Linked DNA regions of Homo sapiens. The protein of the gene in region 1 purifies or fractionates together with the protein of each later gene. This does not show direct contact. Each region holds a gene or a part of one and is shown on either strand. Other genes may lie near its edges.

The links. Proteins that work in one complex are often made in the same cells at the same time.
Region 2: the proteins of WASHC4 (region 1) and WDHD1 fractionate together in Homo sapiens (co-fractionation; one large-scale study listed by BioGRID). This does not show direct contact.

The regions. Positions count from the first base shown.
Region 1 is NC_000012.12:105,114,231-105,117,730, forward strand, and holds part of WASHC4 (WASH complex subunit 4), read left to right. Parts: coding exon 1-39; intron 40-131; coding exon 132-197; intron 198-953; coding exon 954-999; intron 1,000-1,430; coding exon 1,431-1,498; intron 1,499-3,500. UniProt on the Homo sapiens protein: Acts as a component of the WASH core complex that functions as a nucleation-promoting factor (NPF) at the surface of endosomes, where it recruits and activates the Arp2/3 complex to induce actin polymerization, playing a key role in the fission of tubules that serve as transport intermediates during endosome sorting.
Region 2 is NC_000014.9:54,964,600-54,968,099, reverse strand, and holds part of WDHD1 (WD repeat and HMG-box DNA-binding protein 1), read left to right. Parts: intron 1-705; coding exon 706-820; intron 821-1,493; coding exon 1,494-1,625; intron 1,626-3,500. UniProt on the Homo sapiens protein: Core replisome component that acts as a replication initiation factor. Binds directly to the CMG complex and functions as a hub to recruit additional proteins to the replication fork.

The sequences.
Region 1 (3,500 bases):
CAGTCCTCTCTTTTGGAACTCATAAAGACTGAAAACAAGGTACAGAATCCTAAATCTAAAAAATTGTTTTAAAAATGTTTTAGTTATCTGTAACAATTTACTTTTTATTTTGTTTTTACTCATGAAACTAGGTCTTAAACAAAGTCATCACTGTTTATGCTGCACTTTGTTGTGAAATCAAGAAATTAAAATATGAGGTAATTATTTGAATTCTTGTCTTAAAACTTTAAAAACATCATTTAGAAGCAAGTATGTGTTTATATATGTACAGTGTGCAATAAATATTTATTGAATGTTGAATGAATTATTTATTTAACGTAATACTAATACGGACTACCATTCATTGAGTACTTAGTATGTACAAAACACCAGGCTAACACTGTAATCCTTATAGTAACCCCAGGAGGTAGGTGAGACATTGATGAGGAAACTGAAGCTTAAAGAGAGTGTCACTTGCATAACATCTTACTGGTAGTCAACAGTTTGAATCTAGGTTTACAAACCTCCAGAGTTTGTGTTACCTGCCATATATACTGGCTATCTAGAGAAAACTGATTTTTTTTTCTTAAAATGCATTTAGTTTTGTGTTTCCTTACCCAAGAACCATTAAAAGTCTGGTAGAAGTTGACAAACTTCGTATTTTCTTCTCCTGCTTTTTGATACCATGTGGTTGCTCTTTATTTCCCATAAACTAATGGGAGGATGTGGGACAGTGAGGGTGGTCAGATAAGATGAAGTAAAGGCTAAAGGAATCAAGATACAGCTTTGAGTATCAGTAATATTTTTGTTACTCTAAAGATGAATTGCTTTATAAACAGATTTTGAATTTAAATGAATTTGTATGCAAATGATGTAGCCCTCTGTTTATTACTAAGTATACAGATCTAAGAGAGCATAGGAATTTGGAAACAAAACAACCTTTAAAATTATTTTAATTTTTTTCTTAAAAACAGGCTGAAACTAAATTTTACAATGGTCTCTTGTTTTATGGAGAAGGAGGTAAGTTTAAAATTCCAAATTGTGATGCCTTTTTGATATTGAAATGAACAAAAAGTTAACAGACAATTTTAGGACTACTATGATTATATAATAGTGTGAGAAAAATAAGTATTCATATTTTTTGTTGGTATGTTTGGTAAACAGGTAAAAAAGCTGAGGAAGCAGCAGCAAATTTGTGATATCTTTGTACTTTACGAAGTACTGTAGGTAGATGAGAATTTTCCTTGAATTCATTAAATAGTGAAGCAAATACTTCTAATTATTTGATTAATGATTGTCTGATTTTTCTCTTTGGTGTAAAAATTCTGTTTTCAATACTATGCAGAGTAAAAGATGTCCTAATGAAAAAAAAAAACTTTTCCCCCTTTTTTGGTATTGATTGAGTTTAAATTTAAAAAATGAAATATGCTTATTCATGTTGCCTTTTACAGCTACAGATGCCAGCATGGTGGAAGGTGATTGCCAAATTCAAATGGGGAGATTTATTTCATTCTTACAGGTAACTGATTTTTACTTTCTACTGAGCTTTTACTTCAAAAAGTTTGAGTAAATTACACAACACGTAAAAAGTTCTGAAACCTTCAAATACTAAAGATGTGTACTCTGAGGATAAGACACTTAATTAGCATTGGATTATAGTTTAGGAGATCATAACTCCTAAAAGATTTCCAAGTATTTTTAGAGGAAAAAGCTATCAAAATAAGTTTCTTTGTGTATATTTCTTTATGGACAACTTGTCACCATGCCTTTTAAAATAATTTAAACTTTGTACCCACTGGAAAAGATAAATTGTATCAGGAAAAGTTGTTAACGGATAGGAGAGAATTAAGCTATTACATGAGCAATGATGAAGTTGTTTAAAGCGGTAGCCCTCCATGCTTCTAACAGCTTGTTTCAGTTTAGATAGCTTCTCATCACTGCCAGTTTTAATGATTGTAGGTCCTTTGGTTTACTCTTATCAAAAGAATAAAATGGCTTCTATTTCCTCCTCTGTGATAAAAATAGTGCATGTACGATGTGAAAAAGCAAAAATTGAAGCTAAGGAAAAAATACCCATAGTCCCACCTCCTTTCTGTTGTTGAGTACAAGATTTGATATATTTCATCAAATTAGGCATGCTAACATACTGTTCAAATCTTTTATATCTTTACTACTTTTTTTGGTCTAATTGATCTAATTGAGAGCATTTTGTTCATATTGTGATATGTGTTATTCAGGGTCCTGTCTAGAAAACTCCATACAAGGTATTTCAAAAGATGTAGTTTGGAGGATACAAAGTAGCAGATATGTAAGATGAGTAAGTCTAGAGATCTGATGTACAACATGAAGATTACAGGTAATAAAATACCGTATATGGCATTCATGCTGAGTAGATTTTAGCTGCTTTTGCTACAAAAAAATGGGTTAGCTATGTGAGATGATGGATTTGCACTTGACTATAGTAACCTTTTTATTATCGGTATGTATCCCATAACATGTTGTATACCTTAAATATACACAATAAAATGTATTTAAATAAGAAGAGAGGGGATTCAATATAGAGAATTGGTTACCCAGGAGTTGGAGGACAAAGAAAATACTGAGGTGTAGTCCAAAGGAAACAGATACCTCCTTTACATCCAGAGAACAAAAAGGATAAAGATTGGGATTGCCAGGATCTGGGAGCTTGGAGAAGAAGCCCCATGAAACTGATGCCTATGCTGAGGTGGCACTGCCTATCTGCTGCTGGCTTCTTTTCCAGCAAGGTGTCTAAAAAATGTAGTTGGTAAGGTCCCAGTAAATGTGGAAACTTTGCATTTTTCATTTTGAGGGTATTTTATTCAGTGTGTACAAGTTTAGAATTGTTAATCATTCCTGGTAAATTGAATCTTTTATCATCATTTGTGACCTTCCTTAGCTATGATCATGATTATGTGTATATGATTATGTATATGTATTTTACATGCATAGCAATTTACTGTACTGATGCTAATCAAGTCTGTTTTGTCTGACAGTATAATAATAATGCTGCCCTGGCTCCGTTTTAGTTAACATTTTCTTGATTTATCTTTTTCCATTCTGGCAGCCTTTCAGTGTCATGTTTTAGTTGGGTTTATTTAAAACCACATATATCTAAATTTTGCTTTTTTAATGTAGTCTGACAATACCTGTTTTTTAATCGCTTAATTTATTCTGTTTCTAGGTCTATCTTATATAGTCTGTATGTATATCTGGGCTTGTTTCTGCCTTTTTACTTTGTTCTTTCTGTTTGTCCTACATTTTCTCTGCTTTTTTTAAACTTCTAGAAGTTTAATAGGACATGTAAAACTATAACTATTTAAAAATAAAATGCGTTATTTATTTTCATTTTAAAAAATACTTTACATCATATTTAGATCTCACAGCTGCATAAAAATTCCGTTTTTAAACATTCAACAAATATGTTTTGTAAGCCTAGTATATGCTAGAAACTGTTATTGGTGCTGGTGATATAGCAATGCACAACACCAACAGAAATTCCT
Region 2 (3,500 bases), on another chromosome or scaffold:
TGACCTTAGAGTATGTTCCATGTGCAGCTTCATCAGCATTTATCTTGGTGATAACATGGATTCCATGACAGGTATTAATGGTACAATTTTTATGTTTTAAAAGTGGTAGTTTGCTAAGGAAAATATGAAGAGAGCTGATTTCACTTTTAGTGGTTGTCATTTAATAAAGTGAGATGTGAGGTTGGGCAGGGTAGCTCACGCCTGTAATCCCAACACTTTGGGAGGCAAAGGTGGGAGGCACACTTTAGCCCAGGAGTTCGAGTCCAGCCTGGGCAACATGGCAAAACCCCATCGCTACTGAAAATACAAAAGTTAGCCAGGCATGGTGGCATATATCTGTAGTCCCAGCTACTTGGGAGGCTGAGGTGGGAGGATTGCTTGAACTTGGGAGGTTGGGGCTTCAGTGAGCCGTGATCACACCACCGTGCTTTAGCCTGGGCAACACAGTGAGACCCTGTCTCAAAAAAAATAAATCAAGTGAGATGTGAGAAGGAATTTTTCTATTCTTGAAATGCATGTAGGGATAGTCTTTATGCCTAGTCAAGCCTAAAACACTTTTTTAAAAAGAGATATTTGTTATATATGATTAAGGCAGCTATTATAATATTACTATTCTAAGTTACTAACTTTTGAAAACTTTTTAAATTTTGTAGTTTTTATGACATGTTAGTAAATTTTTATGATGGAACTTTTCTTTACTAACAGGTGCATTCCTTGTAAAGGTTCTCGGTTTCCCCCAACCCTTCCACGCCCTGCTGTTGCTATATTATCCTTTAAGCTTCCTTACTGTCAGATTGCAACAGAGAAAGGACAAATGGAGGTATGTGGAAGTCTTACCTTGACACTTTGAATTTGATAATACAGCACCTGTGATACACACACTTTAAAATTATCCTGATGGCCAGTATTGAATATTCATTACTGTATAATTACATAAATAGGGGTAGCAGGGAGGGAAGAGGACTGCTTGGGATCACCAGGCCACCTGATTGCCATCACTGCTTCCAGGGACTTTGTCTACAAAGTAAATGGGTGTGACTGTCAGAGACCCACTGGGGAAAGACTTACTCTCAGGATGGGGCATGTCCCTGAGAAGAAGTGCCTCCATACATTTTGTGCCATAACACCTGGCTTGCCTGACCCTAGTCCTAGCCTTGTGTCATCAAAAGTCATTTGAAATCTTGCAGTTAGTTATTCTAAATAAGAAACAAGTTAGCTTTTAAAAATCTTGTTTACCAAATTCTCTGAGCATTAATTATGATAGCTAGGAAACTGTTTTAAATGCTGTATTCCTCCCCAGCTGCCTTTTTTAAGGATAGGGGAAAAAGTTAAGCTGTAGTATCACACTAGAATTTAAATTGTAAAATAAACTTATAGAAAGGAAGAGTTCAGAACATATTTTATTCAAAAACTGGTATCTTAAGATAAATATTTAACGCTTGCCTCATATTAAGGTGATAGTTGGCCTTAAGCAATTTTATTTGCTTTTATAGGAGCAATTTTGGCGTTCAGTTATATTTCACAACCACCTTGATTATTTAGCTAAAAATGGTTATGAATATGAAGAGAGCACTAAAAATCAAGCAACAAAAGAGCAACAGGAACTTTTAATGAAAATGCTTGCGGTGAGTAAAATAAATATACTGAAAACGTTAAAGTTAAATGCTTTTCTATAGGTTGAATTTCTTAAAGGTCTGTGCATTAGGACTAAGTCCCACAACCTAAGATTCTTAAGTTTTTTTTTGTTGTTGTTGTTGTTTTTTGTGCGACGGAGTCTCGTTCTGTCACCCAGGCTGGAGTGCAGTGGTGCGATCTCGGCTCACTGCAACCTCTGCCTCCCGGGTTCACGCAATTCTGCCTCAGCCTCCCGAGTAGCTAGGATTACAGGCACACACCACCACGCCTAGCTAATTTTTTTTTTTTTTTTTTTTTTTTAGTAGAGATGGGGTTTCCCTATGTTGGCCCGACTGGTCTCGAACTCCTGACCTCGTGATCCGCCCGCCTCAGCCTCCCAAAGTGCTGGGATTACAGGTGTGAGCCACCACACCCAGCCATTCTTAAGTTTTATCTGGTGGTGTTTTCCCTTGTAAAGTTCTATCTTCTAGTTGGTCTTGCAGTTAAAATTTTTTTCTTTTTTTTTTTTTAGGCGGAGTTTCGCTCTTGTTTCTCAGGCTGAAGTGCAGTTGTGCAGTCTTGGCTTACTGCAACCTCCACTTCCCGGGTTCAAGTGATTCTCCTGCCTCAACCTTCCGAGTAGCTGGGACTACAGGCGTGTGCCACCATGCCTGGCTAATTTTTGTATTTTTAGTAGAAACAGGGTTTCACCACATTGGTCAGGCTGGTCTTGAACTCCTGACCTCAGGTAATTCACCTGCCTCGGCCTCCGAAAGTGCTGGGATCACAGGCATGAGCCACCGTGCCCAGCCTAAAATAAATAAAACAGTACCTTGTAGCTAAGATCATGTGCAGGAATAAACATCTCTAGGGCTACTTCCCTTTTGCTTTTGCCCATCAGTCTATGTTTTAACGGGCTCTCAAGGTAACTGAGAACCACTGCTCTAGTTTCTGTTATTATTTTACAAAGTTTGAGTATATACTGTTTTTTAATCTCCAGGGCTGGGCAATCTTAAGAACTTTGATCGGGCTGTTAGATATGCCTGCCTTTTGTCATCCTCTTTGAGTTAGGCAGCTGTGTGTGATGAAAATTTATTTGTGACCAGTGGCCAGGTTTGGTGTCTAGAATATTTAAGTACATTTATCTTTGGAGCAGGGTGTCTTAAAGTTCCTGTGCTTGTGTCCCCACTCAAGGTTGGTTTATGGAGAGGAGTATAGTATCATTTCTTCTTTATTTGTCTTACACTAGACTTTATGCCCCAGAGGGCAGAGACCTGCTCACTGCTGTATGCCAGGCACTGACATGGTGGCTTAACACATAGTAGACCTCGATATTTGTTGACAAGAGTGAATGGTCCAGACTTTTAATTTTAAAATTGGAGAAAAAAGGTTCTTAGAGAAAAGTGGTATATGAGACCACAGAGCAAATTGCCACTCTTGTCTCCAAAAGGTAGTACTCACTACTGTCACCTTTATGCAACATGGCCTTAAGTTTGGTATTAAGAAAACTCAGTTTATTGTAGAAAAAGTTTTATTCCTTTTATAAAGTGTTACTTGTGGTCCAGGAACTAGTAGCCTTTTTATTTGTACAACACATATAAGGAAACATATTTCATGTATTTGCTATTTAGCCTAGAGGAGCTTTTCCCTGTGGCAGTGTTTCTCATATCAAAAATACCAGGGGACTCATATCAAAGATGCCAGGGCAGGAGGATATCTTGAGCCCAGGAGTTCAAGGGGATTGTTGAGTTCTTCTTTAGCATTCCTGACCCCCGGGCAAATGCCTTTAGTTCAGAATAGTCACTGTGGAAACCAGACTATTCCTTTTTATTTCTTTTTTTTTTTTTGAAACGAAGTCTCGCTCTGTTGCCCAGGCTGGAGTGCAG